Linked DNA regions of Homo sapiens: regions 1, 3 and 4 are each linked to region 2. The links come from fine-mapping of genetic effects on gene expression. A gene starts in region 2. Each other region holds a variant in brackets. All regions are shown on one strand. Distances are between the middles of the regions.

Evidence for each region. PIP is the estimated chance that this variant, and not a neighbour inherited with it, causes the effect.
Region 1: its variant is the best candidate, but not a certain one, in a credible set for the expression of RNF187 in pancreas (GTEx, PIP 0.73).
Region 3: its variant is the best candidate, but not a certain one, in a credible set for the expression of RNF187 in transverse colon (GTEx, PIP 0.80).
Region 4: its variant is the best candidate, but not a certain one, in a credible set for the expression of RNF187 in gastroesophageal junction (GTEx, PIP 0.51).

The regions. Positions count from the first base shown.
Region 1 is chr1:228,426,176-228,434,274 of GRCh38, reverse strand. No RefSeq gene overlaps it. Among named protein-coding and RNA genes, the nearest start is that of H3-4, 4.9 kb to the right of the region's middle. The variant G/C (reference allele first, on the strand shown) is at 2,985.
Region 2 is chr1:228,483,191-228,491,289 of GRCh38, reverse strand. It overlaps RNF187 (ring finger protein 187), which reads right to left and starts at 3,908. Exons shown (of 4, transcript NM_001010858.3): 1 at 3,412-3,908; 2 at 2,238-2,330. The coding sequence starts at 3,801. RefSeq lists enhancers at 1,734-2,461, 2,462-3,190, 3,308-4,168, 4,470-4,849, 4,169-5,030 and 1 more and silencers at 3,270-3,469, 3,730-3,849.
Region 3 is chr1:228,534,148-228,542,246 of GRCh38, reverse strand. No RefSeq gene overlaps it. Among named protein-coding and RNA genes, the nearest start is that of RNF187, 51 kb to the right of the region's middle. The variant G/A (reference allele first, on the strand shown) is at 4,179.
Region 4 is chr1:228,506,830-228,514,928 of GRCh38, reverse strand. It overlaps LOC105373124 (a long non-coding RNA gene), which reads right to left and starts at 6,882. Exons shown (of 3, transcript XR_949233.3): 1 at 6,807-6,882; 2 at 6,095-6,228; 3 at 4,797-5,038. It also overlaps the pseudogene BTNL10P. RefSeq lists an enhancer at 3,290-3,791. The variant C/T (reference allele first, on the strand shown) is at 3,977.

The DNA.
Region 1 (8,099 bases), 57 kb after region 2:
GGGAAAGCAACCATGGTGAAGTACACTCAGGACATGCCCCCAAGAAAGGCCTACCCTTCAGGGGAGAGACACTAACAGGCTTAATCCAGCTGGGGGAGGTGTGACCCCCAAATGTCTGAGACAGGTCTCAATTAGTTTAGAGAGTTTATTTTGCCAAGGTTGAGGATGTGCATCTGTGACACAGCCTCAGGAGGTCCTGACGACATGTGCCCAAGGTGGTCTCAGCACAGCTTGGTTTTATACATTTTAGGGAAATATGAGACATCAATCATTATGTGTAATATGTACATTGGTTCAGTCCGGAAAGGTGGGACAACTCGAGGCAAAGGCAGGACAATTTGAAGCAGGGAGGGCGCTTCTAGGTCATAGGTAGATAAGAGACAAATGGTTGCATTCTTTTGAGTTTCTGATTAGCCTCTCCAAATGAGGCCATCAGATATGCATTTATCTCAGGGAGCAGAGGGGTGACTTTGAATAGAATGAGAGGTAGGTTTGCCCTAAGCAGTTCCCAGCTTGACTTTTCTCTTTAGCTTAGTGATTCTGGGGCACCAAGATTTATTTTCCTTTCAGATTTATTTTCCTTTCGAGAAAGGTATTCCCTCCACTTCAGCCACCTCTAGCCTTAAGGAGACAAAAGCAGCTAGGAAACACCTGTGAAGGTCACAGTCCAGGGGCACAGGCCAAATAAGAGGCTGAGATTTCATCATAACACTATGGAATGCTTCCTCCACCCCAGGCCGGCCACCACGCCATAAGGCTCCAGTGTGAGTACAGTCTGACAGAAAGAGCTACTGTTGATCAAGCGAGTCAAACTCCATAAAATATTTTAAGAGATTTATTCTGAGCCAAATATGAGTGACCATGGCCCATGACACAGCCCTCAGGAGGTCCTGAGAACATGTGCCCAAGGTGGTTGAGGTACAGCTTGGTTTTATATATTTTAGGAAGGCATGAGACATTAATCAAATATTAAGAAATATATTGGTTTGGTTCAGAAAGGCAGGACAACTCAAAGCAAGTGCTTCCGGGCTATAAGTAAATGTAAACATTTTCTGGCAGATAATTGGTTGAGCTTGTCTAAAGACCTGGGATCGATAGAAAGGAAATGTTCAGGTTAAAAATAAAGGATTGTGGAGACCAAGTTTTATTGTGCAGAGGAAGTGCTCAGATAGCCAACTTCAGAGACAGCAGGTTGTAAATTGTTTCTTATGGGACTTAAAAGGGTGCCTGGCTCTTAGTTGATTATCTCCTGGATCTGGAAAGAAAGGAAGGAAAACAAAGGGGAAAGGGGATTCTCTATAGAATGTGGATTTTTCCCACAAGAGATTTTTCAGGGCAATTTCAAGGCATGGCAAGGAATATATATTTTGGGGTTGAATATTTTTTCCTTGTCTCAAAATTTTATGCCAGAGTCAGATTGAAAAGTCAGTCACAATATATAGGGTCAAATAAAACCCATCTGATGAGAATTTATGGTTTGTAGGGGTTGACTCCCTAGACCCCGTAGGTGGGAATTTGGGTAAGATAAAAGGTGAGAGCTTATTTGGGTAAGATAAAAGGTCAGTGCTTAGTCCTCACTATGATACACCGGACAGTGTGTGAAGGAGCTCTTAGGGAAGTTTAAAGTCAGGAGGGGAGATGAGAACAAGGACCCTAGGTAAACAAAACTTCGGCTATAATAAACATGAAAAAGAGCCCAGTTTCGAGCCAGATGATGTAAATGCTCACGCTAACGGCCTATGTTCCCGATTTTTTTTTTTTAAACAGGGTCTCACTCTGTGGCCCAGGCTGGAGTGCAGTGGCACAGTCATAGATCACTGCAGACTCAAACTCCTGGGCTCAAGCGATTCTCTCACCTTGGCCTCCCAACGTGCTGGGATTACAGGCACACACGAACATGCCCAGCTAAGTTTTTTTTTTTTTTAATTTTTTTTTTCTTTTAGAGACGGGGTCTTGATATGCTGCCCAGGCTGATCTTGAACTCCTGGCCTCAAGCAGTCCTCCTACCTTAGTCTCCCAAAGTGTTGGGATTACAGGCATGAGCCACCACCCCCAGCCATACCAGAGTTCTGATTACCTGATACTTTATCTCCAGCTTCAACACAAAATGACAAGACGTGCCAAAAGGCAAGAACACACAATCTGAAGAGACAAACGAGAACCAGAACCAGACCCACACGGACCATTCCTGACGTCAATGTTTATTGAGTGCCTACTGGGTGCATGGTGCAGGTGTGGGAGTTATTTGGGGTCGTTGTGACCTGGGAAGCTAACAGGCCATTTGCAACAATAAGAACACAGCGCATTTGCCAAGTGCCTGTATAGGCCTTGTGCTGGCACTGTCACTGGGCCTAGGGGGCATCAGCGTTTGGCTCCTTCTCTTTTTTTTTTTTTTTTTGAGGCAGGGTCTCGCTCTGTTGCCCAGGCTGGAGTGCAGTGGCACAGTCTCAGCTCACTGCAGCTTCAACTTCCCAGGCTCAAGGAATCCTCCCACCTCAGCTTCCCAAGTAGCTGGGACTACAGTTGCATGACACCATGCCCGGCTATTTTTTCGTATTTTTTGTAGAGACGGGGTCCCACTATGTTGCCCTGATCTCAAACTCCTGGGCTCAAGCCATTGCTGGCCTTGGCCTCCCAAAGTGCTGAGATTTATTACAGGCATGAGCTACCACTCCTGATCATGAAGCAGGATAGTGTTATTAAAAGTAGACTTAGGTTGTAAATGTATATTACAAACTCCAGGGCAATCATGAAAACATTGAGAAAGAAGTATAATTGATGTGCGGAGAGAGGATGGAGTTTTATTACAGTGCAGTCATGGCAAATATCTTTGAAGACCCTTAACACCCATCACGACTTTGAAATGACAGTAGCTACAAATACTTCCTAATTCAAATGTTATTTAATGCATTCATAAAGATGCACATTTATAACTCTATGACAAGTTAATTTTATATGTTTTCACAACTTATTTCAATATAATT[G/C]ATTTCCTTTGTATTAATAATTTTTTAACATTTTTGTGCATTTAAAAACTTTTTGGCCTGGCATGGTGGCTCATGCCTGTAATCCCAGCACTTTGGGAAGCTGAGGTGGGTGGATCACTTGAGGTGAGGAGTTCAAGACCAGCCTGACCAACATGGTGAAACCCTGTCTCTACTAAAAATAAAAAAAAAAAATTAGCCAGGTGTGGTGGCTGGTCCCTGTAGTCCCAACTACTAAGGAGGCCAAGGCAGGAGAATTGCTTGAACCCAGGAGGCAGAGGTTGCAATGAGCAGAGATCACACCACTGCACTCCAGCCTGGGTGACAGAGTGAGACTCCATCTCAAAAAAAAAAAGTCTTTCTAAGACAGAATCCATAGGCTTCATCAAACTGCGACAGGGGTTCATGGGACAACAAAAAAAGCTCATGGTGTGAGGAATTCTTGCCATCTATTCAAACTGAACAAGAAAAGAAATCTCCTTAATAAGAAAATATTCTAGAGCACCCAATCTGGATGGAAGTTCATCTTACCTGTTTAAGGAGAAAAATTTGCTTTAGTGTGTTCTATCATGGATAGATTAATACCTTGTTTTGCAGACAAATTTAAAAAGTAAAGAAAGAAAGAAGAAGACATTATAAAGGATCCTTCAGAAAAACACTGAACACATGGCAGGATTCTTTTTTACTATTGAGGCGGTGGGGAATCAGGACAGTGGAGACACACCCACGCTGGGGCCCTTAGAAAGTGGCTATGAACACAGCAAAGATCCGATTGTAAAAAAAACTGGCTACAGCCAACATACTCCCCTGCTTTAGAGATATGTCAGTGTTTCCTGCAGCTTCTGGAAGCTCCAAGGTAGATGACTGGCACTTGGCTCCGTCCCAATTGATGATGTGACTGTGGACTGACTGGTTCATCCCACAGACCGTACTGAAAGTCGTCTCCCACTGGCACCCTCCTGGACACACATGGAGCACTCACCATGCACCAGGCCCACAGAATGGGAAGATGGAACTTGGGGATGGTCAGTATGGACAGGACTTGTGAGGAGTTTCCTGCAGAGTGGGCCAGAGAAGTGGGATGCCAGATGGAAGGGCACATTGGATGGAGAGGGAAGGCGTTCTTTCTAACAAACAGTGGGAAACCCTAGTGCACACTGGCTTTGGAAGAGTCTTAGGAGGACAGAGCTCACCATCGCTTTGTGCACTGTTTACCCCAGACCTAGAAGGAGTGCCTGTTCCTGTAAGACCCCCATCTCTGCCCTTACAGTGAGTTTGTGAAAGTCCAGATGGTTTCAGGCTTGCTGCTGCCCAGACTAAGGAGAAAAGCCAATTTATAAATTGGAGAAGCGATAGCATATTGTTTGCTGATGGGAATGCTCCTACAGAGATGATGCAATATGACCAACCACGTACGACCCCCAAATCTCAAAGAACTTTAACACGAGGATACAAGTCCCGTTACTGCCTCAGCTGTACATGCAAAGACCATAAGGAGAGAAAACGAGGAGACAGAGAAAAAGCACTGATTTACAGAATGCGTGTGGCCTCGACAGACCAGTTCCTTGTGGGGAATGTTTGTATCTCACATTCTCTTCAGTTTGCAGAGGAAATCTCTCTTGGGAAGTTTTCAGGGGACATTTTTCTCTACGTCTTGGTCCTTCTAGGGGTTTTAACGACATAGAACTCAATGATTGGAGATCAAGAAAATGAACTGTTCAGCTAATCATCTAAAAAGCGCTTTTACATGTAATATAGAGGCTATTTTCAAGCCTTGCCAGGGGTGGGTGGGTCCGCATTTAGGCAGCCCTTTATTCTGTGCTTCATGTGAGTGCATTTGTTTGCTCAGACACATAGAACCAGGTGGCATCCTGTGCTATGTCTGGGTGGTTTGGGAGCTCAAAGCCCCTGAGAATCTAAAAGCAAAAGCCCTTATGACTGGAAAAGTGAGGTCGCAGACATGTGCCCAAAACCTATGAGCCTCTTGGCTGCACTCGGAGAACTGGCCAAGCCTGTGCCACACTCCACAGGGAGGCCTGGGTAGAGTCACGAGGCAGAAAGGGCTGCTTTGCAGGTGCTCCTGGGGAGGTCGCAGCAGGTGCCTGGAATCCATCATCCGCCCATCATCAGCCCCGTTAGCCCTAAGGACACCTGGAGAGTCCCAAGGCTGCCTCTCTCGAGTGAGGGACAGCTCCAGGAAGATGGAACGTGTCCAAATCCTCCCAGGCAGTTAAAGGGTTGAGCAGCATCTGGTCTGGCCAGGTCAGACCCCACATCATTTACACCAGGGGCGAGCCTGGGTGGACTTCACAGGTGGATGGTCCTAGGGTCCTTCCATCTGTCTGCCCAGCCAACCAGACCCGATGAGCAGAGGGCAGCAGGCCTTCTGTGTAACAACCACTGTCCAATAAAAAAACCAATCCAGATTTAGTAAGGAGATATCTTTATGCAAAAGGATATTGCAATAGGAGATACCAGAATACTGCAATAGGGAGAAAGCATTGACCTTAATGTCTGCAAGCTCCCAAAGGTGACGCAGAGAAGGAGTTTTCTTATATAGGGAGGAATGAATGAGGCTGGAAAGAACCACGTCTGGGGAAGTGGGATGAAGGGTGGCTGAGGGGACAAGAGATTGAGGATACTTTACCCTGAGCCTGGCCTGCTCCAGGAGAGGCCAAACATCAGGGCGTTGGGGGAGGGGAGAAGCTGAACCAAGGCTGGGCAAACAAGCATCTTGTGTGGATTGACGCATGGGGACAAGGAGTTCAGGTAATCATTGATAAGGCAAAGATGGCAATGTAGTGGGTGCTATAGTTTGAATAAGGTGTTTGTCTCATTAATTCTCATGTTGAAATTTAATCTCCAGTGTTGGAGGTGCAGCCTGGTGGGAGGTGCTTGGGTCCTGGGGGCAGATCCTTCATGAATAGACTCCTGCCCTCCCTTGTAGGGAGTGGAGTTCTTGCTCTATTAGTTCCTGCCAAAGCTGGTTGTTAAAAACAGCCCGGCACCTCCTCCTCTCTCTTTCCCTGTGACCTCTGCACACAGGGGCTCCCCTTCATCTTCCACCATGAATGGAGGCTTCCTGAGGTCCTCATCAGAAGCAGATGCTGAAGCCTTGCTTCTTATACAGCCTGCAGAACCATAAGCCAAAAAAAGTTTTGATAAATTACCCAGCTTCTAGTATTCCTTTACAGCAACGCAAAACAGACAAAGACAGTGGGCCTGTCATGCATCAACAAGGGGCGCTGTAGGGGAGGCAGAATTCTACCTCCATTATCTTAGGGTCCAGGGTGGGCCCAAGAATTAGACTGACATTAGAGAGATGAGCAGGAGAAAAACATACAGTTATTTAATACAAATTTAATGTGGTACAGGAGCCCTCATAAGGAAATGAAGATGCAAAGAGGCAGTTAGAGTCACTTATATACAGAGGTGGACAAACACTATTAAGTTGTGAGATTTGATACGGCCACGGGGCTTGAGTGAGGATAGTTAATGGGGTGAAGAAATGACTAAGTCAAAATACTTACACACTAGGTTGAACAAAGAGTAGTAACTGTGGCAACAACTAGGAAGATAAGGGTTAGTTTAATAAAGTTTGTTTGTATAGATTTCTCTTGGCTTCTATCTTGGTCTGTTTCATGTTGTTAAAGGAATACCTGAGGCTGGATGATTTATTAAAAAAAAAAAAGGTTTATTTGGCTTATGGTTTCGCAGGCTGTACAAGAAGCACAGTGGCTGGGCGCAGTGGCTCACGCCTGTAATCCCAGCTACTCAGGAGGCTGAGGCAGGAGAGTCGCTTGAACTTCCCGGGAGGCGGATGTTGCAGTGGGCTGAGATCACATCACTGCACTCCAGCCTGGGCAACAGAGTGAGACTCAGGTCAAAAAATTAAAAAAAAAAAAGCATAGTGGCCGGGCACGGTGTAATCCTAGCACTTTGGGAGGCCAAGGTCGGGGGATCAGTTGAACTCAGGAATTCAAGACCAGCTTGGGCAACATAATGACAGCCCATCTCTACAAAAAAATTAAAAATTTAAAAATTAGCTGGATGTGGTCCCAGCTACTTGGGAGGCTGAGGTAAGAGGGGCCTGGGCAACAGAGCAAGATGAAAAAAGGAGGGAAAGGAGGGGAGGGGAAGGGAGAAGAAAAAAAGGAAGGGAGGGAGGGAGTGAGGAAGGGAGGGAAGGAGAAAGGAAGGGAGGGAAGGAGAAAGGAAGGGAGGGAAGGAGAAAGGAAGGGAGGGAAGGAGAAAGGAAGGGAGGGAGTGAGGAAGGGAGGGAAGGAGAAAGGAAGGGAGGGAGGGAGAAAGGAAGGAAGCAAGCATAGGGCCCACCTCTGCTTCTGGTGAGGGCCTCTGGCTGCTTCTGCTCATGGTGGAAGGTGAAGGGGAACCCATGTATGTGCAGAGGTCACAGGGCTGCCGCGAGAGAGGACGCCAGAGAGAGAGGGGAGAGGGGTGCCAGGCTCTTTTCAACACCAGCTCTTCAGGGAACCAACAGAGTGAAAACTCACCCTAAAGGAGGGCAGGACTCTATTCAGAGGGTGACACCCCAGGACCCACACACCTCCCACTGGCCCCCCCCTCCCTGGGCTCCAACTTTAGGGATCAAATTTCAACTTGAGAGTTGGAGGAGATTTGGAAGCTTCCACCTCCCGTCCTTGATGATAAGAACGTTCCCTTGCTTTTACTATAAGGAGAACATCTTTCATATGGGAATTTCATCTCTTGTATTTAAGAAACAACAAGAAATTCAGAATGATCTTCCTACACCTGCTTCTTCTTTTTTTTTTTTAAGTGCCTTTATCTCAAAATAGACAATATGCCAGAAAGGCACATCTTTACCTTCTTCAGAATCCTAAGGCTCATCTAAGCCGTACAGGTAAGGGAGTTCTTTGCAGGTCATAAAAAGTGGGAGATTCCTTTAACTCTGGCTGCATCCCAGAGCTTTGTCACTGTGTAAAAGTGGAATGCCGGCCGGGCACGCTGGCTCACGCCTGTAATCCCAACACTTTGGGAGGCCGAGGCGGGCGGATCACGAGGTCAGGAGATCGAGACCATCCTGGCTAACATGGTGAAACCCCGTCTCTACTAAAAATACAAAACAAAATTAGCCAG
Region 2 (8,099 bases):
CAGCCTCCCAAGTAGCTGGGACCACAGATGCAACACCATACCTGGCTAATTTATTAATTTTTGTACAGATGGTGGTCTCACTATGTTACCCAGGCTGGTCTCGAACTCCTAGCCTCAAGCAATCCTCCTACACCTCAGCCTCCCAAGTTGCTGGGATTACAGGCATGAACCACTGCACCTGACCCTGTTAGTTTAGCTTATGTCAGTTTAATTCTCCCGCCCAGCCTGGGGCCCTAAAAGGGGAGAAATAGAGTTCTTTCTCCCCTACACTGCAGTGCTCAGCTGCACAGGAAGACTGTCCCTCTCCCATCTCCCATGGCCAAGGGGACAGTAAATCCTTGAGTGGCCCTGCTAGGTCTAGAGCCTGTCAGGCACGTGACTGTCAGGGCAGGACACACACCCATCTTGCCAGCAACTGTCCCTGCTGTGCCCACACCAGAACTCCAATGGCTGAAAACCATCCCATCAGCCTTCAACAAACAGCATTCACACTTGCCACTCTTCAGCTGGTTTTCAGCCAACTCCTAACCTTGCAAACAGGAGAGCAGAGCAGGATGCTACTCTGATTTTACTCAGTCATGGATGGCTTCCACCTGGCCCTGGGCCACACAGGGCAGGTGACACCCATAGTCATGAGGGGCCAAGGCTTTTGTTGCTGAGAATGCAAATGACAGCTGGGTGTCTGCTGGCTGGCTGATGCAACACGCTGCAAACTCCTTCCTTTGGATTTAGGTGGCTTCTCTCATCCCAGCATCTAAGCCACAAACCCCCAAAACAGGACAGATTGAAAGCTCCAACCTGCTAAAATCTGTGGGCAAAACAATTCCCTTGGGGTAACACAGGGTTACTGAAAACTTGGAGGTCCCCAAAGCCTTCCAGCCTCACTTGCACTGGGCAGTGTTGACCACTCACAAGGCAAGGAGAAGTTCAGAGCAGCCCCAAGGGCAGTGTGGAGTGCCAGGGGTCTGAGTGGCATCAGGGACCCCATGTGTAACCCGTCACTGTCTGAGGGAGGCCTGCACCTCAGGCCTGTGGATAGCAGGCAAGGGCTTGGCAGCACCAGGAGCACAGAGCCCACCTCAGCCTCAAGCTGGGGTAAAAACGTGGGCCTCAGCCTCGAGATGCAGCCAGTTACCCAAGAGCTGCTGCACCTGTGAAAAGCACTCTGTCTTTCAGGTTAAAAGAAGGAGATAGGAATTTATGAAACGCAGAGAAAATGGCACACAGGTTTTTACTACACGAGGAAAAAGTCACCAAATAGAGTTTAAACGACTAAAGAGCTTTACTGGTGAGTAACCTAAAAGAATCTATGGGATGTCCCCTTGGGATATAATACTGTGGAAGGCACCCAAGGAAAGTAACGCTGCTCTGGTCTGAATGTCTGTGTCCTCCCCAAATCCCCATGCTGAAATCCTCATCCCTCAGGTGATGGCGTTAGGAGGCAGGACCCTTGGGAGGTGATGAGGTTGTGAGGGTGGAACTCTCAAGAACGGAATCAGTGTCCTTACACAAAGGCCCCAGAGACACCCTCACTTCTTCCACCATGTGAGGACACAGTGAGAAGACACCATCTATGAACCAGGAAACGCCCTCACCAGACAGGGAATCTGCCAGTTCCTTCATCTTGGACTTCTAGCCTCTAAAAAATAATGAGCAACTCTCAGATCAGAACAAGAGGACCACAGAAAATTACAGATGTGTTCTAAAAAAGAAAAAAAAAATAGCACTTTGGGAGGCCAAGGCGGGAGAACCGCTTAAGGTCAGGAGTTTGAGACCAGCCTGGGCAACACAGCAAGACCCCCACCTCTAGAAAAGCATTTTAAAATTAACCAGGTGTGGTAGCACGTGCCTATAGTCCCAGAGGCTGAGGTGGGAGGATCGCCTGAGGCCAGTTCGAGCTGCAGTGAGCTACAATCATGCCATTGCACTTCAGCCTGGGTAATGAAGTGAGACTCTGTCTCTTGGGAAAAAAAAAAGAAGTCTGATGCTGCCATCACCTACAGGTAAAATGTGAGGAGAAAAAGAGGCTTCCACTGGCTTTGGCTAGATTCTATTTGAGAAATACAAACACATCCTAAAAAAAATACCCTGAAGCTCACTTAAGTCCAGAGGCCCCTCCTCCAACCAACCAGCTGAGCAGTTCAGAGGCCTGGCCCACTTGGCCTGGTGGTCCCTTTGTCTAGAGCCCTGAGCCCACAGTCCCCTCATTCCAGGCTGCCCCAGGTCCCCCCACTTGCCTTCCACACTGCAGCTGCTGACTCTGCCTGGCCATGCAGGTCCCGGGCGTCATTCAAGTCCTTTCTCATGATTTCCACAGACCCCTTGTTCTCCTGTAAAGAAAAGAAGGTCACCAGGGGTGGGCAGAAGCTCTGGGTCCCCCAACCCAGCCCAGTACTGAGGGACATCACCCCAGCTGACTGCACACAGTCTGACCATCCCAGAGATAACCTCGAAGCCCGGTTGTCTAGGGCAGGAACGCACAGGCAGTCAAAAGGTTTCTTGGGCTTCACACCTATTCAGAAGGATCTGGGTGCTGGGGCTAAGGGGACTGTCTAGGTGGGTTTAGGAGTTCTGTGTCTGTAAGTGGCCCTGTTCAGTGTGAGTTCGGCCTGTACCAAAGGTCTGCACAGCCTGCCCTACACCCTGCCCTGCCTGAGCCGGATGGGGGTCGCTCTGCCCGGTGGCAGGACCCCCAATGCAGGAGGAGCACCCAGGGACACAGTCTGGCTGGCTTCCCCTCCCCTGTATTGAAGAGCAGGACCCCAGGCTGGCTGTTGTCTCCTATTCTGTGTCCCACAACCAACCCGCCATGGGCAAGGCTCCAGACTCCCGGACCCGCTGCTGCCAGACTCTCAGAGCGGGTTTCTGAAAGATGGGAGAGGGGACAGGGGGTGCAGGCGAGGGCTGGGTGGCCCGGGGAGCAGACGAGAAGGTGGGCCAGGCCTGTGGACACAGTGGAATACAGAGGGGCAAGAGGCGTGATGTCTCCCCCAAGGGAAGAGTGAGTGGAGGAGTCAATCTGTAGGAACTAGAGGGGGTCTATGAGGGCGAGACAGGGCACAGCTAGTGATGGGACCACAAAGATGGGCGCTGGTGGGGGAAGGACTTCGTAGAAGGTAGGGGGTGGGGAGATAAGGCACCGCCCAGCAGGGGACACCAAGACGGGGAAGGGGACCAGACTCCGAAGAGACGCAGGAAATATGGGGAGGCAAGCCGCAGGAGGGAGGGGCCCAGCACACGCTGGAGAGGGGACCCGTGGCGGTGAGGGGAGGGGGACAATCCGGGGACGGGGACAATCCGGGGACAGGAACAGTGGAGACGGGAAGGGCCCAGGGCTCAGGGGGACCGGGGCGGGGGCGGAGAGGCGCAGGGCACCGTCCGGGGTGGGGCACGGGACCCCGCGGCGCGCACCTTGCCGCGCAGCGCCTTCCTCCAGCGCGGTTCCCACTCGGGCGGCTCGGGGCCCGCAGCCATACGGCAGGCGGCGCAGAGCGGGCCGGCGTCGGCGCGGCACAGCAGCTGCAGCGCGGCCTCGCTGGCCGGGCCGTCGCGCGCGGGCGCCGCGGCCGCCTCCTCGAGCGCCAGAAGGCGGCGGCTGAGCGGGGGCCTGCCGGGCTCCACGGCGCGCTGCCAGCAGTCGTCGGCGCACTCGGGGCACGGGAAGGGCCCGTCCTCCTCGGCCCAGAAGCGCACCACGCACGCCCGACAGAAGCGGTGGCCGCAGTCGGCGCGCACCGGTTCCCGGGGCGCGCGCTGGCACAGGGCGCAGGCGGCCTCGGCGGGGCCCGCAGGGAGCGCCAGGGCTGCGGGCGGCGGGGCCGGCAAGGGCGCAGGAGCGGCTGGGGAGGGCCGGAGACCTAGACGGCCGGCGACCGGACGGAGACCAGCAACAGGACGAAGACGCCAACGCCGGGGACGCGCACGGGGCGGGGTCGGGGACGCGCACGGGGCGGGGTCCGGACCGCGGAGCGCTCTGCCGATAAGATCCTGGCAGCGGTGTGCTGCAGCCGGAGGTCCTGGCCGCGCTGCGCTCCACAGACAAGATCCTGGCAGCAGTGTACTGCATCCTTAGGTCCTGGCCGCGGTGGGCTTCTCCGCCTGGATCCTAGCGGCGGTGCGCTCCTCCGCCTTGATTTTGGCAACTATGCTCTCCACCTGCAAGGTCCTGGCAGCGGCGCACGTCACCGCGCAAGTCCTGGCAGCTGCGCGCTTCACTCTACTGCCTGCGGACCGGCCCAAGTCGTATCCTGAAATCTTACTGGGCTGTCCCTTCCTACTTCAGTAACTCCTGCGAAAGAGGGAAACAAAGTTTTATTTTTACTTGAAGGTTCCATTTTTAAAAGGTTGTTTTTGTAAGCTGCTAGGATCTGAGCTGCGCGTACCCCCGCGGTAGCTCGCCCGCGTGGGCTGGGGACGGGGCGGGAAATGGCCTGCGTGGGCCTCCTCCGCTGCTCTCATCCTGCACGGACCCGCCCTGCATGGGCACGCCCTGCGTGCACGGGCCTGCCCGCGTGGACGTGCCCTGCGTGCACCCTTCCTTCAGGGACCCGCCCTTGAACGGCCCTCCGGACGTGGACACTCGTATACGCCCACCCTGCGTGGGATCTCCCTGCGTGGACCCATCCCGCTGAGCCTCTTCTCGCGCAGCCTCCCTCTGGCCCCCTGGGAAGCTACCCTGGTTGTCCGCTGTCTCCTGGCTGGGGGGAGCTCTCATTGATTCTGTGATGATGCATGACAGAAGAGCATTTGTTAGCTTTGCTTTGCTTTTCTTTCTTTTTTGAGACAGCCTCGCTCTGTTGCCAGGCAGGCTTGAGTGCAGTGGCGCGATCTCGGCTCACTGCAACCTCCGCGTCCCGGGTTCAAGCGATTCTCCTGCCTCAGCCCCCCGAGTAGCCGGTATTGCAGGCGCCTGCCACGACGCCCGGCTAATTTTTGTATTTTTAGTACAGACGGGGTTTCACCATGTTGGCCAGGCTGGCCTCGAACTCCTGACCTCGTAATCCACCCGCCTCTGCCTCCCAAAGTGCTGGGATTACAGGCGTGAGCCACTACACCCGGCCGTTAGCTTTTCTTTAAAAAATAAATTTAAAGGAAAGAAATAAGCCTTTGGGAAGAGCAATCTTGTGTTTTTGTTTTTTAATTATTTTGAAAACAAGCAAGCATGGTTAAAATAAGATTGTGCAAGTTTTGCATTTTAAAAAATTAATCTGGGCCGGGCGCCGTGGCTCACGTCTCTAATCCCAGCACTTTGCGAGGCCGAGGCGAGCGGATCACAAGGTCAAGATATGAGACCATCCTGGCTCATGGTGAAACCCCGTCTCTACTAAAAATACACAAATTAGCCGGGCGTGGTGGCGCATGCCTGTAATCCCAGCTACTCAGGAGGCTGAGGCAGGAGAATCACTTGAACCAGGGAGTCGGAGGTTGCGGTGAGCCAAGATCGTGCCACTGCACTCTAGCCTGGCGACAGAGCGAGACTCTGTCTTAAAAAACAAAAACAAAAAAAAATTTTTATAAATCTGTATTCCAAGCAAGCGCAGGATCTAATGAGGTATTTTTGTCTTTGTGAAGATTTTTTAAATCGACTTGGAAATGCACTAGATGCCCGTGGGAAACATGAATAGTAAACCGAGGTTATTTCTGTGTAGTAAAGATTAGAGGCTTCCAGCCGAGCCTTGCTGATATTGTTGAGTCAACTAGGAACTTGCTGGAGAGAAAAGTAAAAAATATAAAAAATGAGCAAACTTCATAATGAACTAATCTTGTGAATGAGAAAATATCAAAAATTATAATTAAAGGCAAATAGCCAAATTAGGAACATTGTAACCACAAATATACAAAGAGTTTATAAAATTAGGTAAGGAAAAGCATGATGGAAAATACACCTTGTCATGGGATTTTTCAAATCACAAAAAAAAAAGCACACAAATGATTGAACACACATGAGAAAAAAATGTACACTCTGCCCAGTTAAGAAAGAGGAAAATAAAACGAGACTCTCTTTCTTTCCACTATTAAGTAAGCAGACCAAACAAAAAAAAGGAAACTTGGCCGGGAGCCGTGGCTCAGGCCTGTAAACACAGCACTTTGGGAGGCCGAGGCGGGTGAATCATCTGAGGTCAGGAGTTCAAGACCAGCCTGGCCAACATAGTGAAACCCTATCTCTACTAAAAATACAAAAATTAGGCTGGATGTGGTGGCACACGCCTGTAATCCCAGCACTTTGGGAGGCTGAGGCAGGTGGATCACAAGATCAAGAGATCGAGACCATCCTGGCCAACATGGTGAAACCCCGTCTCTACTAAAAATACAAAAATTAGTTGGGCATGGTGGTGCACGCCTGTGGTCCCAGCTACTTGAGAGGCTGAGGCAGGAGAATAGCTGGAACCGGGAGACGAAGGTTGCAGTGAGCCGAGATCATGCCACTACACTCCAACCTGGCGACAGAGCAAGACTCCCTCAGTTTCAAAAAAAAAAAAAAAATACAAAAATTAGCCAGGCATGGTGGCACGTGCCTGTAATCCCAGCTATTTGGGTGGCTGAGGCAGGAGAATCGCTTGAACCTGGGCGGTGGAGGTTGCAGTGAGCCGAGATCACACCACTGCACTCCAGCCTGGGCAACAGAGTGAAACTCCATTTCAAAAAAACAAAAAACAGAAAACAAACAAACAAAAAAAACACTTGATTCTGTGAATACTGCTTCTTGTAATCCACGTAGCAGTATCGATTAAGGATTTTCTGATTGGAATTCCTTTTCTTAGAAAACAAACTATAAAAATAACAGGAAATGAAAATAATAAAAATTGGGTTGTAAAAAATTGGGCTGTTTTGTTTTGTTTAGAAATGTGGCTGGGAGAGGTGGCTCATGCCTGTTAATCCCAGCACTTTGGGAGGCTGAGGTGAGTGGATAGCTTGAGCCCAGTAGTTCAACACCAGCCTGGGGAACATGGCAAGAACCTGTCTGTACAGAAAATTTTTAAAATTTAGCTGGGCGTGGTGGCACGCACCTGTGGACCCAACTACTTGGGAGGCTGAGGTGGGAGGATCACCCGAGCACAGGAGATTGAGCCTGTAGTGAGCCGTGATCATGCCACTGCACTCCAGCCTGGGAAATGAGAGAATTTTTTAAGACCTTGTCTTAAAAAAAAGAAAGAGAGAGAGAGAGAGAGAGAGAGGTGGGGGCGGGGGGTGGGGGAGAGAAGGAAGGAGTGGAGGGAGAGAGGAAGGAAGGAAGAAAGGGAAAAGAAAAAGAAGAAAGGAAGGAAAGAAAGAAAAGGAAGGAAGGAAGGAGAAAAAGAAGGAAGGAAAGAAAGAGAGAAAGGAAGGGAGGGAGGGAGGAAGGGAGAGGAAGAAAGAGAAGAAAGAAAGAGAAATGTATGTCATATCACTATTCATTTTGGAGAAAAAAAAAAAAACCTTGAAGGTCCAATACTAGGGGCATGGCTTAGCAAATGGTAGCAGCCATGAACTTGCACATGTGTGCATTAGAGACTTTTGGAAGTATACACTGGCAAAGATTGTTGCCTGAAAGCCTCTCTCCCTTACCACCAGCAGAATCCACATTGTGTGGTGCCAGCATCCCCACTTCCCAAGACAGGGTGGCTGGTGTAGGTGCCAAGGGGAACCCTTGGTCCTCTCAAATTTTGATGAAAAATTGCAAAAGGCTGGTCGCGGTGGCTCACGCCTGTAATCCCAGCACTTTGGGAGGCCGAGGCTGGCAGATCACAAGGCCAGGAGATGGAGACCATCCTGGCCAACACGGTGAAACCCCATCTCTACTGAAAATACAAAAATTAGCTGGGCATGGTGCTGCATGCCTGTAGTCCCAGCTACTCGGGAGGCTGAGGCAGGAGAATCGCTTGAACCCAGGAGACGGAGGCTACAGTGAGCTGACATAGCATCACTGCACTCCAGCCTGGGTGACAGAGCCAGACTCTGTCTCAAAAAAAAAAAAAAAAGAAAGAAAAATTGCAAAAGGCAGATCAATTGGAGAAAAGGCAGACACATTTATTTACTGTGTCTATACAAACCTAAAGATATGGGGGAAATCGTCCTTTTTTTTTTTTTTTTTGAGACGGAGTCTTGCTCTGTCACCCAGG
Region 3 (8,099 bases), 51 kb before region 2:
GTTACCCCAGGTATTATAATAGCAGAGACTACTGGCTGATCCCAGGAATTTTAATGATGGAGACACCTCTGTGATTCCAGGCATTTTAATGGGAGAGATTCCTAGTTGACTCCAGGCATGGTAGTGATAGAGACACCTGTGTGACCCCAGGCATTCTAATTATACAGACAGTTGGGTGAACCCAGGCATTCTAAAGGGAGAGACTCCTGGATGACCCCTGGCATTCTATTGATAGAGACATCTGGGAGACTCCAGGCATTCTAATGGGAGAGACACATGGCCAACCACAGGCATTCTAATTATAGAGACACCCGGGCGACTTTAGGCATTCTAATGTGAGAGACTCCTGACCAACCCCAGGCATTCTAATTATAGAGACAAATGGGTGACGCCAGGCATTCTTATGGAACAGACTTCTGGCCAACCCAAGACATTCTAATGATAGAGACACCTGGGTGACTTCAGGCATTCAAATGATAGAGACACTTGGACAACCCCAGGCGTTCTAATGGGAGAGACTCCTGGTCAAACTCAAGCATTATGACAGAGATACCTAGGTGACCCAAGATATTTTACTGGAAAGACTCATGGCCAACCCCAGGCATTCTAATATTAGAGACACCTGAGTGACCCCAGGCATTTTTATTAGACTCTTATTTGACCCCATGCATTCTAATAATAGAGACACCCGGGTTACCCCAGGCATTCTAATGGGAGAGACTCCGGGCCTATCTAAGGCAATCTAATGATAGAGACACCTTGAAGACTTCAGACATTCTAATGGGAGAGACTCCTGGCTGACCCTAGGTATTTTAATAATACAGGCATCTGGGAGAACCCATGCATTCTAAAGGGAGAGACTCCTGGCTGACCTCAAACATTCTAATGATAGAGACACCTTTTTGACCCCAGGCATTCTAAAGTTAGACACACCTGGGAGATCACATGCTTTCTAATTGGATAGACTTCTGGCTGATTCCAGGCATTCTAACGGTAGAGACAGCTTGGCGACCCCAGGCATTATCATGGCAGTGACTCCTTGCTGACCGCAGGCATTCAAATAATAGACACCTGGGTGACCACAGATATTCTAATGGGAGAGACTCCTGGCTGACCCCAGGCTTTCTAATTATTAAGAAACCTGTGGGACTCCAGGCATTATTATGATAGAGACACCTAAGCGACCCCGGGCATTCTAATTACAGAGACACCTGGGAGGCCTCAGGCATTCTAATGGGAGATACCCCTGGTTGACCCCAGGCATTTGAAAGATAAAGACCCTTAGGTGACTCCAGAATATCTAATGATAGAGACTCCTGAACAACCCAAGGAAATCTAATGAAAGAGACTCCTTGTTAACCCCAGGCATTTTTATGTTAGAGACATCTGGTGACCTCAAGCATTTTAATGGGAGAGATTCCTAGCTGACCCCAAGCATTGTAATGATAGAGAAATCTGGGCAACCCCAGGCATTGTAATGGGAAAGACTCCTGGCCAACCTCAGGCATTCTCATGAGAGAGACTCATGGGCGACCCCAGGCATTCTAATGGGAGAGAATCTTGGCTGACCCCAGGCATTGTAATGATAAAGACATCTGGGCAACACCAGGCATTTCAATGGAAAAGACTCCTGGGAGACCTCAGGCATTATAATGATAGAGATACCTGGGTGATTTTAGACATTCTAATGGGAGAGACTCCTGGCCAACCCCAGGCATTCTAATGATAGAGACACCTTGGCGACCCCAGGCATTTTAATGGGAGAGACTCCTGGCCGACCACAGGCATTCTAATGATAGAGACAACTGGGCGATCCCAAGCATTCTAATGAAAGACACTCTAGGCTGACACCTGGCATCGTAATGATAAAGAAACCAGGGACATTCCAGGCATACTAATGACAGAAACTTCCAGATGACCCTAGTTTTTCTAATGATAAAGACACGTCGGCGACCTCAGGCATTCCAATATAAAAGACTCCTGGCCGGCCCCAGACATTCTAATGGTAGAGATAACTGGGCAACCCCAGGCATTCTACTGGGAGAGAATCTCAGCCAGCCCCAGATATTCTAATGATAGACACACCTTGGTGACTTCAGGCATTCTAATGGGAGAGACTCCTGGTTAACCCCAGGAATTCTAATAATAGAGACACCAGGACGACCCCAGGCCTTCTAATGAAAGAGACTCCTGCCCAAACCCAGACATTCTAACGATAAAGACACCTGAGCAACCCCAGCCATTCTAATGATAGAGACACCTGGGCAAACCCAGCTATTTTAATGGGAGAGAATCCTTCCCCATTCCGGTATTCTAATGATAGAGACACCTGGGCAGCCAATGGCATTCTAATGGGATAGACTCCTGGACTACCTCAGGCATTTTAATGATAAAGACAGCTGTGCCACACAAGGCATTCTAATGATGGAGACACCTAGACGAACCCACACATTCTAACTGGAGAGACTCCTGGTGGAATCCAGGCATTCTAATGATAGAAACACTTGGGCCACCCCAGGCATTCTAATGGGAATGTTTCCTGGCTGATCCAAGGAATTGTAATAATAGAGACAAGTGGGTGACCCAAGGCATAGTAATGGAAGAGACTCTTGGCTAACTCCAGACATTCTAATAATAGAGACACCTGGAGGAACCCAGGAATTCTAATGGAAGAGACTCCTGGCTGACCCCAGGCATTGTAATAATAGGGACACCTGGGCGACCCCTTGCATTTTAATGAGAGAATCCCAACCGACCCCAGCCATTCTAATGATAGAGACACATGGGTGACCCCAGGAATTGTAAGGGGAGGACTCCTGGCTGACCCCAGGCATTCTCATGATGGAGACACTAGGGAGACCCCAGGCACTCTAATAAAAGAGACTCCTGCCCGATCTCAGGCATTCTAATAGGAGAGACCCTAGGCCGGCCACTAGCATTCTAATGATATAGAAACCTGGGCTCTTTCAGGCATTCTGATGATAGAGACACGTGTGCAACATCAGGCATTCTAATGGGAGAGACTCCTGACCAATACCATGCATTCTAATGATAGAGACGACTTGGTACCCCAGGTATTCTAACAAGATGGACTCCTGGCCAACACTAGTCTTTCTAATACCTGGGCAACCCCAGGCAACCCCAGGCATTCTAATGGTTGAGATTCCTGGACAAACCCAGGCATTCTAATGACAGAGACAGCTGGTCATCTCAGGCATTCTAATGGAGAGACTTCTGGCCCACCCCAGGCATTGTAATGATAGAGACAACTGGGAGACCCCAGGCATTCTACTGATAGAAACACCAGGGTGACAGCATGCATTCTAATGGGAGAGACTCCAACCAACCCCAGGCATTCTAATTATAGAGACATTTGGGCGACCCCAAGCATTCTAAGGGGAGAGACCCCCGGCTGACCCTAGGCATTCTCATGAGAAAGACACCTGGGTGACCTCAGACAATCTAATGGGAGAGACTCCTGGGCGACCTTAGGCATTGTAATAATAGAGACCCCTGGATGACTGCAGGCATTCTAATGGAAGAGACTCCTGGCCGACCCTAGGCATTCTAATAATAGATACAGCTGGACGACTTCAGGCATTCGAATGGGAGAGACTTCTGGCTGACCATAGGCATTATAATGGTAGAGACAAGTGGGCTACTTTAGGCATTTTAATGAGAGGGACCCTTGGCCAACCCCAGGCATTCTAATGATAGAGACACCAACGAGACTCTAGGCATTCTAAAGGGAGAGAATACTGGGCAACCTTAGTAATTCTAATGAGACACCTGGGCAACCTCAGGCATTATAATGTGAAAAACTCCAGACAAACCACAGGCATTCTAATAATAGAGACACCTGGGTGACCCCATGCATTCTAATGGGAGAGACTTTCGGCCAACCCCAGGAATTCTAATGATAGAGACAAATGGGTGACCCCAGGCATTCTAATGATAGATACACTTAAGCAGCTCGTGGCATACTAATGGGAGAGACACCTACCTGACCCCAGGCAATCTAATTACAGAGACACCTGGGCAACGCCAGGCATTCTAATGAAAGAAACTTCTGGTTGACCTCATGCATTCTAATGATACAGACAACTGAGCGATCCCAGGCTTTCTAATGGGAGAGATTCCTGGCCAACCCCAGTCATTCTAATGATAGAGAAACCTGG[G/A]TGACCCCAGGCATTCTAATGGAAGAGATTTCTGGCCGACCTCAGGCATTCTAAAAATAAAGAAAGCTTGGTGACCCCAGGTATTCTAATGATAGAGACAACTGGGTGACACCAGGCACTCTAATAATAAAGACACCTGGGCGACCATAGGCGTTCTAATGATTAAGACAGCTGGGCAACCTCAGGCCTTCTAATGGAGAGACTCCTGGCTGACCCCAGGCATTCTAATTTGAGAGACTGCAGGCAGACCCCAGACATTGTATTGATAGAGAAACCTGGGTGACCACAGGCATTCTAATGATAGAGACCACTGCGTACCCCAGGCATTCTAATGATAGAGATACCTGGTCCACCACAGACATTCTAATGGGAGATGCCCCTGGCCAATCCTAGGCATTGTAATGATAGAGACAACTGGGCAACCCCAGGCATTCTAATGGGGGAGACTCCTGGCCAACTTTAGGCATTCTAGCAATAGAGACACCTGAGTGAGCCCAGGCATTCTAATGGAATAGATTTTTGGCTGACCCCATGTATTCTAATGATAGAGACACCTGGGTGACCCCAGGTATTCTAATGGGAGAGACTCCTGCTGACCCAGGCATTCTAATGATAGAGAGACCTGGGCAACCCCGGGCATTCTATTGGGAGAGACCTCAGGCCAACCCCAGGCATTCTAATTAAAGGGACAACTGGGCGACCCCAGGCATTCTAATGATAGAGACACCTGATGGATTACAGACATTCTAATAGGAGAGACTCCTTGCCGACCCCAGATACTGTAATGACAGATGTCGGGGTGATCAGACTCAACACCAGGTCATGGGGGTGATGAAGTCCGGCAGAGTCAAAGGAATGAGAAAAGACTGTTTGAGAAAGAAAGTGGGTCTAGGGGGCCAATGCTAGTATGGAGGCTGTGAAGGCCCCGAGCTCTGGAAGCCCAGACTATTTATTGGTGATCAAGCAAAGAAACGGGTGATGAGAATGTGGGGGTCAAAAGGGCAAGCACATGATCTACAGCTGTGATGGTTTAGCATTTCCTTTGAAGCATATGGGACATATTCTGCTACTTGAGATAATGGGGAGCATGTTCTTCTAGTTTAAGCTAGAAGCAAGGAGCCAGCAAGTCTAGACTCATTCCAGAGGCCACGAGAGGTTTTATGCTCTGAGCCCTGGACATCATGTCAGACATGCAAGCCCTGCCTCAGCTTTTTTCCCAACACTCAGCTTTTTCCCAACAGAAAGAGACATGTGGGAGACCCCAAGCATTCTAATGGGAGAGACTCCAGGCCAAACCCAGGCATTCTAATAATAGAGACTTTTAGGTTACCCCAGGCATTCTAATGATAGAGACACTGGAATGATTTCAATCATTATAATGGGAGAGACTCGTGGATGATTCCAGGCATTGTAATGACAGAGACACCTGGGTGACTACAGAAATTCTAATGGGAGAGACTCCTGGCTGACCTCAGGCATTGTAATGATAGAGACACCTGGGCGACCCCAGGCATTCTAATGAGAGAGACTCGTGGCTGACCCTTGGTATTCTTATGATAGAGACAACTGGGCGACCCCAGGCATTCTAATGGAAGAGACTCCTGGCTGACCACAGGCACTCTAATGATAAAAACACCTGAGCGACCCCAGGCACTATAATAATAGGAACACTTGGGCCACCCCAGGCACTCTAATTGGAGAGACTCATGGCCAACCCCAGGCATTGTAATGATAGAGACAGCTGGGCGACCTCAAGCATTCTAACCAGAGAGACACCTGGCCAACCCCAGACATTCTAATGATAGTAACAACTTCTCGACCCCAGGCATTCTAATGGAGAGATTCCTGGCAGACCCCAGGCATTGTAATGATAGAGACCCCTCTTCAACCCTAGGCATTCTAATGGGAGAGACTCTTGGCTGACCCCAGGCATTCTAATGGTAGAGACACCTGGACAACCCCAGCCATGCTAATGGGAGATACTCGTGGCTGATTCCAGGCATTGTAATGATAGACACCTGGGCAACCACCAGCTTTCTATGGGAGAGACTCCTGGCCAACCCCAGGCATTCTAATGATAGAGATATCTGGGCTACCCCAGGAATTTTAAAGATAGAGACACGTGACCAACCCCAGGTGTTCTTACAGGAAAGACTCCTGGCTGACCTCAGGCATTCTAATGATAAAGACACTTGGCGACCTCCTGCATTCTAAGGACAGAGACATCTAGCCCACCCCCAGGCATTCTAATGGGAGAAACTCCTGGCCGACCCCAGGCATTCTAATGATAGAGGCTTTTGGCCAACTCCAAGCATTCTAATGGTAAAGACAACTGTGTGACCTCAGGCATTCTAAGGATAGAGCCACCTGGCTGACTTCTGGCATTGTAATGGGACTCCTGGCCAACACCAGTCCTTCTAATGATAGAGACACATGGGTGACCTCAGGCATTCTAAGGATAGAGAAACCTGGCCGACCACAGGCATTGTAACCAGAGAGAATTTTGGCCAACCTGAGACATTCTAATTATAGAGACTCCTGGGAATCCTCAGGCATTCTAATGATAGAGACACCTGGGCAACCTCAGGCATTCTATAAAGACACCTGGCTGACCCTAGGAATTCTAACAGGAGAGACACCTGGCTGACCCCAGGCATTCTAATCAGAGAGACACCTTGGCGACCTCAGGCATTGGAAGGATAGAGACACCTGGCCGAATTCAAGCATTCTAAAGGGAGAGACTCCTGGCTTGACCCCAGGCATTCTAATGATAGAGACTCATAGCTGAGCCCAGGCATTCTAATAATGGAGACACCTTGGCCACCTCAGTCATTCTAAGGATGGAGACACCTCGGCGACCTCAGGCGTTCTAAAAATAGAGACACCTGGCCAACACCAGGCATTCTAACAGGAGAGACTCCTGGCCGACCCCAAGCATTCTAATGATAGAGACTCCTGGCCAACCACAGGCATTCTAATTATAGACACACCTGGGCAAACTCAGGCATTCTAACGATAGACACCTAGCCGACAACAGGCATTCTAACGGGAGAGATTTCTGGCCCTCCTCAGTCATCCTAATGATAAGACACCTTGGTGACCTCAGGCATTCTAAGGATAGAGAAACCTGGGTGACCCCAGGCATTCTAACCAGAGAGACTCCTATTTGGCCAAACAGATGTCTGGCCATCCCCAGGCATTCTAATGGGAGAGATGCCTGGCCAGCCTCATGGATTCTAATGATGGAGGCTTCTGGCCAATGCCAGGCATTCTAAGGACAGAGACATCTGGCCGACCTCAAGCATTCTAACTGAAGAGACTCCTGGCTGACCCCAGGCATTCTAATGATAGTCACCTGGGTGAACTCAGGCATTCTAATGAGAGAGACTCCTGGTTGAGTACAGGAATTTTAATAATAGAGATGCCTGGGTGACCCCAGGCATTCTAATGGGAGAGACTCCTTGCCGACCCCAGGCATTCTAATGATAGGGACATCTTAGCGACCACAGGCATTTTGTTGGGAGAGACTCCTTGCCGACTGCAGGCATTCTAATGATAGAGACACCTAAGCGACCCCAGGCATTCTAATGATAGACACACCTGGGCAACTCCAGGCATTCTAATGGGAGAGACTCCTGGCTGACCCCAGGCATTCTAATGATAGAGACAACTGGGTGACCCCAGGCATTCTAATGAAAAAGACACCTGGGCAATTCCAGGCATTCTAATGATAGAGACACCTGGGCAACCCCATGCATTCTAATTTGAGAGACTCCTAGCCGACTCCAGGCATTATAATGATGGAGACACCTGGGAGACCCTAGACATTCTAATAAGAAAAACTCCTGGCCAATTCCAGGCATTCTAATAATAGAGACATCGGGTGATCCCAGGCATTCAAATTGGAGACAGACTCTGGGC
Region 4 (8,099 bases), 24 kb before region 2:
TTGAGCTGAATGTGTCTGCAGGAGCCCCGACTGCCCACATGAGAGACTCTGGGCCACACATGGGCTCATGCACAGAAGGACCACCGTGTCAGGTGACCTACCCATGGGCTGAAAGCCCACACCGCCAGGACACCTTTCTCTGCCATAGCTTCTCCCAGTGCTTGTGACACTCTTCATCCGACAACAGGCATCACAATCTGCTCTCAACACAGTGTGCTCTGTACATCGTAGCGGCTCACTCTAGATTGTTCAAACCTGAGTCCTTCTTCCCAAGTCATCAGGACAAGTGTGACTGGATGCAGCACAGTGGCTCATGCCAGTAACCACGGTACTTTGATAAGCCGAAGTGGGAGGATTGCTTAAGCCCAGGAGTTCAAGACAAGCCTGGGCAACATAGCACGACTTTATCTCTACAAAAAATACCAAAAATTTAGCCAGGCATGATGGTGCACCTGTGGTCCCAGCTACTTGGGAGGCTGAGATGGGAGGATTGCTTGAGTCTGGGAGATCAAGGATGCAGTGAGCTGAGATCACACCACTGTACTCCAGCCTGGGTGACAGAGTGAGACCCTGTCTTTAACAACATATTAATTAATGTTTTTTTGAGGCAGAGTCTCACTCTGTCACCCAGGCTGGAGTGCAGTAGCACGATCTTGGCTCACTGCAACCTCCACCTCCCTGGTTCAAGCAATTCCCCTGCCTCAGCCTCCCAAGTAGCTGGGATTACAGGCACAGGCCACCATGCTGGGCTAATTTTTTTGTATTTTTAGTACAGATGGGTTTCCACCACGTTGGCCAGACTGGTCTTGAACTCCTGACCTCAGGCAATCTGCCTGCCTCAGCCTACCAAAGTACTGGGATTACAGGTGTGAGCCACCGCGTCTGGTCAATTATTTTTTTAAAAAGGACAAGTGAGTCGAGTTTTAGGTCACGTCATTGTCTGGTAAAAGCAGATCACAGGACGACATAATTCTTACGTGTTGACATATAAAAGGGGGAACAACCGGTTGACCAAAGAGACGCTCCCCCAAGGAGGGACATAGGAGGGACCTGGCACTTGGATTTCCTCACCGCCCGCAGGCACAGGGAGTGCTCAGCCCGTCTGCAGAGTTTGGATAAAGCTCCTCCCTCTAGGAAAGCAAGGACTCCTTTCTCACAAAAACCACCCAGGAAAAGGCCCAGACTTTTGAATCATCAAACAAGAAGGTGAGGAGGGAATAGGCCTTGCGGCTGGGTGCGAGAAATCAGCATGAAGGTTCTAAGCTGGGCCAGGGATGCTACCAGTGAGAACAGACACCCATGACCCCACAGCCACGGAGGGCAGCGAAGGGCTGGGGAAGAGGAGCCCTGAACGTCCCTCTGGGACAATACAGGAATTAGGACATTGCGACATGATCATAAACACCTTTCCTGAAGGACCTGGGCCAGCTAGGCTGGGCCTGCACGCTGCCAGATAACCACAGGCTTTATCTGCATTTGCAGCTCCTTCAGCTGGCCTGGGTCCCACCCTGAGACCCGTCTCCTCCCGGCGGGCTCTATCTCCTGCTCCCCAGCCCTGGGGTGTTCCACACTGGGGATCACACTCTTCAGGAAGCCTTTTTTTTTTTTTCTGCTGCAACTGCCAGAAAGGTACAGTTACATATTTTTGCAAAAAACAAAAGGAAGAATCTCTGGAAACTGGGGGACTTGGCGGCTTTTGCCAGATGTCTAGGTTGCCTTTCACATCACTGCTTGGAGACAGCGTGGTTGGTCTGGGTCACACCCTACCTGGAGTTGGCAGGAAACTAAATTCATTCCCCCAAAGTTGCCAGGACTTCCCAGGGAAGCTGCAGCAGCTCTCGGTGCCAGGTGAGCATTGTCTATGGTCAGGATGTGGTTTGCTCTTCAGTGTCTCTGCTTCCTCCACCCTCTCCCCATCCCCAAGGGCAGAAGGACCACAGGGCCTTCCTGCAATGCAAGAACCAAACAGGACAAGAGCCTGTGCCCACACAACTCCCTAATCACACACGTAAATGCCCAACCTGGATGGCTGTGCTGGGTAGAACCGCCCAAGGTCACAGAACTTTTTACCAACACCTGCTCTCTAAACCAAGGTTACAAGAAATGCTCACAAGAGACTCATGAGGGTCTTGGCCTGCCCATCCCAGCTGAAGAGCTCTGAGGATTGGGCCCAGCCCCCAGCCCCTGACTGTAGAAGTCCCCATGGGGACAGCAGGAAAGCAAGGGACATTAAGGGAATCCCTTGATGTCGTTCTGACCTCGAATTTGCTTAATCCGAGTCTGGGTTTTCTCCCCCAGCATTCTGGAGTTTCATGACAGTCACCAGCTAGAGACTGGGCTACAGCTCTTTATGAGCAATTAGAAAATCAAACCCCTTCCCTCCTGGATGTCCTCGTGGAATTCCGCAGACAGACTAGGGTGAGAGGTGTGTTACCCGCAAGGAGATGGGTACAGGAGCACATGAGGCTTGCTGTGTCTCCATTTATAGCATTAATAACTTGTTTGAGAGTGAGAGTAAATGACCTTTTTCTTCTTTTTCTTCCATGGCACTTTTCCTCTGCACCTGTTAGCTTCCTGGCGGTGGCTCCTCTCCCAGTGACAGTGCGTGGCTCCGGCCTGGCAGGAATGGCAGTGACATGCGATCCAGAGGCCTTCCTGTCCATCTGCTTTGTCACCTTGGTCTTCCTGCAGCTCCCACTGGCCAGCATCTGTCAAAACTGAGGGACAGACTCCTGTGCAAGTCGAGGCAGGTGCCCTGGCATAGGTGGGGGTGTGTCCAGCATGGCGGGAAGCTGAAGCATCTCCCAGCAGCTCAGGGCTCAATAGGTCCCCAAAGCTTCCAAGAAGAGGGAGGGGCAGGGGGGAAGTGCCCTGGCCTCCCAACACATGGCCTAACCCAGCCCTTTCTGATCTGCCTCCCCCAGGGAAAGCTGACTTTGATGTCACTGGGCCTCATGCCCCTATTCTGGCTATGGCTGGGGGACACGTGGAGTTACAGTGCCAGCTGTTCCCCAATATCAGTGCCGAGGACATGGAGCTGAGGTGGTACAGGTGCCAGCCCTCCCTAGCTGTGCACATGCATGAGAGAGGGATGGACATGGATGGAGAGCAAAAGTGGCAGTACAGAGGAAGGACCACCTTCATGAGTGACCACGTGGCCAGGGGCAAGGCCATGGTGAGGAGTCACAGGGTCACCACCTTTGACAACAGGACATACTGCTGCCGCTTCAAGGATGGTGTAAAGTTCGGCGAGGCCACTGTGCAGGTGCAGGTGGCAGGTAAGGCTGGTGGCTAGCTGGCTGTCAGTCTACTTCCAGGCATGGCCTTGGGGCCCAGCGTGTTCAGGTGGAGGGCTTTTCAGTAGGGTGAGAGTGCACTCTCCCAGCTGCCGTGCTGGCCTGCACTGCTCCCGGGAAGCACAGCGGTGAAGGCAGAGCCACCTTCCTCATCTTCCTTTCCCTCCTTACACCAGTGGACTGGAAAGTGAAGGGAAGGGAAAGAGAGAGATGGGGGGAATGAGAGAGACACAGAGAAGAAGAGATAGAATGAGAAAGAAGCAGGGAGAGACAGACAGAGGTGGAAAGAGAGATGGAGAGAAAGACAGAGAGATGAGAGAAAGACAGAGAGAGATGAAGAAAGAATGACAGAATTATAGAGATGGGGAAAGAGAGAGATGGAGAGGGAGGGACAGGCAGAGACAGAGAATGAAAGACAGGAGAGACAGAGATGGAGAGAGACAGAGAGAATGAGAAACTGAGAGAAACACAGAGAGAATGAAAGAGACAAAGAGACAGAGTCAGTGACAGAGAGAGGGAGATAGAGACAGAGACAGAGAGACAGTAAAAGAAAATGAGAAAGACAGTAAGCAACAGAGAGTGGGAGGAAGAGAGAGACAGAGAAATAATGACAGGAGACAGAAAGGCCAAGAGAGAGAAGAGAGTCTTCAGATACGGGAGGTTTCCCGAGTGACTCAGAA[C/T]TTGTGCTTCGAAACAGACAAGCCTGGGTCCCATCTTGTGCCATGAATTCTACTTCTGCAACACAGGATGCCTATTCAATCTTCCTGGACCTTTTCCACTTTGCTTCCCTTCTTTTGTCTGGGAAATGGGGAACTCTGTTAGGGATGGTGTGTAACACAGGGTAGGCAGTTTGTGAAATTGCCAAAATACATTGGAAATCCTCAAGATTTTGTTTTTCCTTTAAATAGAAGCAGCCATGGCTGCAAAGATTCAAGCTGCTGTCTCTTCCTTCAGGGCTGGGCAGAGAGCCCAGAATCCAGGTGACAGACCAGCAGGATGGAGTCAGGGCGGAGTGCACATCAGCAGGCTGTTTCCCCAAGTCCTGGGTGGAACGGAGAGACTTCAGGGGCCAGGCTAGGCCTGCTGTGACCAATCTATCAGCCTCAGCCACCACCAGGCTCTGGGCTGTGGCATCCAGCTTGACGCTCTGGGACAGGGCTGTGGAGGGTCTCTCCTGCTCCATCTCCAGCCCCCTCCTCCCTGAAAGGAGGAAGGTGGCTGAGAGCCACCTGCCCGGTGAGTCCTCTATTCAGTTCTGTCCTCACAATCACTGAGCACAGGATTCCGTGGCCCTGGACACTGGGGACATTAAGAGACAGCTGTGGGGTTTGTGGCAAGCAGGGATGGGTGGCAGGTCCCTGTCCTCACATGGCTGGGGCATCCCAGGAGGTGCACTGTTTGGGTGCTGATTACTGAAGAGGAACAGAGATAAGGGTGCAGGGACCCTGGGGAGAGCCTTGCCTTTGGGGGAACAAGAAATGTACATCCTAATATCAACAGTTTTTAGGGTTTTTTAAAATAGGCTTTATTTTTTAAAGCAGTTTTAGGGTCACAACAAATTTTAGTAGAAAGTCCAGAGAGTTCCCATCTTCCCCTAACCCCCTCACACACCTTCCCCCAGCATAAAAACCCTACACCAGAAGGAACGTCCACCATGTTTGATGAACTTCCGTTGACAATGCCGTCAGCACCCAGAGTGCAGTTTTCATGAGGGCTCACTCTTGGCATGGTGTCCCATGGTTCTAGATAAATATATAATGCCACATATCTGTCATAGTATCATACAAAATAATGTCACTGCCCTTAATCCTCCGTGCTCCGCTCATTCATTCATCTCCCCTAACTCCTGGCCACCACTGATGTTTTCACTGTCTCCATAGTTTCCAGGTGTTCTGGAATGTCCTGTAGTTGGGACGGTGCCTCTGTAGCCCCTTCACTTTGACTTCCCTCACTTTGTGGTACGCATTTAGGTTTCCTCCATGTCTTTTCCTGCCTTGATAACTTGTTTCTTTTGTGAAATGAATAACGTTCCAGGATCTGGATGGACCACTGTTTATTGATCCATTCACCTACTAAAAAATATCTTGGTTGTTTCCAAATTTAGCTTTTCACAAAAACTTTCACTTTTACTTTTCTAAATGATGTCAAACTTACAGAAACTTTGCAAGATTAATAGAAAAGTTGTCTGTGCACCCTTTACTCAGATTCACCATATTTTTACCTTATTGCGATATTTCTTTTTATCACTTCTCCCTTTGTCTATCTACAAATAGATATCTAATATCTACTTCCTATGCATATGTCTAAACCCAACTGTCTTACTCCATTTGTGTGCCTATAACAAAATACCACAGACCAGGTGGCTTAGAAACAAGAGATAGCTATTGCCCACAGTTTTGTAAGCTGGGAAGTCCAAGATCAAGGCGTGGCAGATTTGGTGTCTGGCAAGGGCACTTCCTGGTTCATAGACAGCGCCTTCTCACTGTGTCCTCACATGGTGGAAGGGGTGAGGGAGCTCTCTGGGCTCTCCCCTTTATAAGGGCACCATTCCCATCATATCCGTTACAGGGGCTCCACCCTCATGACCTCATCACTTCCCAAAGGCCTCACCTCCTAACATCATCACCGTAGGGGTTGGGATTTCAACCCCTTTGGGGGACACAGACATTCGGTCCATAGACCAGCTGTGCAAATACATACTATTTTGGAAACTATTTCACAGTAATTTGCAAATATTATGTCCCTGGACTACTGAACTCTTTAGCAAGTTTGACCTCAGAACACAGAAACTCTCTTACCCCAATATTCCTGGCTTCTGGGAATCTTCTCCAGCTACCTTCTCCAGAAGCTCCCAGTTCACGGCATGGAAAGCAGCTCTGCCTCTGATCCTTGTTGCCATGGGACTCGTAATAGCTGGAGGCATCTGCATCTTCTGGAAACGTCAAAGGGAAAAGAACAAAGCATCACTGGAAGAAGAGAGGGAGTGAAGAGAAAAGGAGCAGAGGCGGCCCACCAGCAGCGACAAGGCTGAGCCATGGCGTGGTGAGCAGGGAGCCCCGACAAGGCACATCCTGCCCCCCCACCCCAAATCCAGGACCCTAACACGAAGCCCTGAGCTGAGGCTTCGTCCATGTGTCCTCAGACACAGTAGGAATGGGGTGGCCAGTGGGGATCCTCCCTCTGGCATTGCCTGATTATGATCTACCCAGTGAGACCATCTGTCTCCTAGCAATCCCTCAATTAAGTCTTCACTGGCTGATTTCAGGCAGGCTGGTTGGGCTCTGTCTTGAAAACAGACAGATCTGAGTTTGAACCCCAAGTCTGATGGGTGTGGGCTGAGGGACCTGGTGTGAGCCCTGAGCCACTCTGTCTGCTGGGAGTGCTGATACCATCCTGAAAGACCAACAGAGTAGCATTCAGAGCAAGGCCGCGTCAGGGAGGGTTTACAGTTGCAATCACTGTGATTATTCTCAATATTGACTGTGTCCTTCATTCATTCACTTCACTCACTTCCTCCTCTGTCATTTCAGGAGCTGAGGACTTGTTCCTAGACTTCAGAGCCCTATTTTGAGAGTAGAGATTGTGCTCAGCTGGTTATAAAGACTGCATTATGACAGAGTTGCTTGTGGTGGCTTGCAGCTGTCATCCAGCATTTTGGGAGGCTGAGGCGGGAAAATTGCTTGAGGCCAGGAGTTTGAGGACACCCTGGGCAATATAGCAAGACCCCATCTCTACAAAAAAATAAAAATAAAGAAATTAGCCAGGCATGGTGGTGTGTGCCTGTTGTCCCAGCTACTCAGGAGGCTGAGGTGGGAAAATCACTCGAGCCCAGGAGTTTAAGGCTACAGTGAGCCATGATTGTGCTACTGCACTCCAGCCTGGGTGACAGAGCCAGATCCTGTCAGACAGATGAAAGAAGAAAGAAGGAAAGAAAGAAAGAAGAAAGAAAGAAAGAAAGAAAGAAAGAAAGAAAGAAAGAAAGAAAGAAAGAAAGACGAAATCTCTCAGCATTTGCTTGTCTGTAAAGGATTTTATTTCTCCTTCACTTATGAAGCTTAGTTTGGCTGGATATGAAATTCTGGGTGGAAAATTCTTTTCTTTAAGAATGTTGAATAGTGGCCCCCACTCTCTTCTGGCTTGTAGAGTTTCTGCCGAGAGATCAGCTGTTAGTCTGATGGGCTTCCCTTTGTGGGTAACCCGACTTTTCTCTCTGGCTGCCCTTAACATTTTTTCCTTCATTTCAACTTTGGTGAATCTGACAATTATGTGTCTTGGAGTTGCTGTTCTCGAGGAGTATCTTTGTGGCGTTCTCTGTATTTCCTGAATCTGAATGTTGGCCTGCCTTGCTAGGTTGGGGAAGTTCTCCTGGATAATATCCTGTAGAGTGTTTTCCAACTTGGTTCCATTCTCCCCATCACTTTCAGGTACACCAATCAGACGTAGATTTGGTCTTTTCACATAGTCCCATATTTCTTGGAGGCTTTGTTCGTTTCTTTTTATTCTTTTTTCTCTAAACTTCCCTTCTTGCTTCATTTCATTCATTTCATCTTCCATCACTGATACCCTTTCTTCCAGTTGATGGCATCGGCTCCTGAGGCTTCTGCATTCTTCACTTAGTTCTCGAGCCTTGGCTTTCAGCTCCATCAGCTCTTTTAAGGACTTCCCTGCATTGGTTATTCTAGTTATACATTCATCTAATTTTTTTTCACAGTTTTTAACTTCTTTGCCATTGTTTTGAATTTCCTCCTGTAGCTCAGAGTAGTTTGATCGTCTGGAGACTTCTTCTCTCACCTCGTCAAAGTC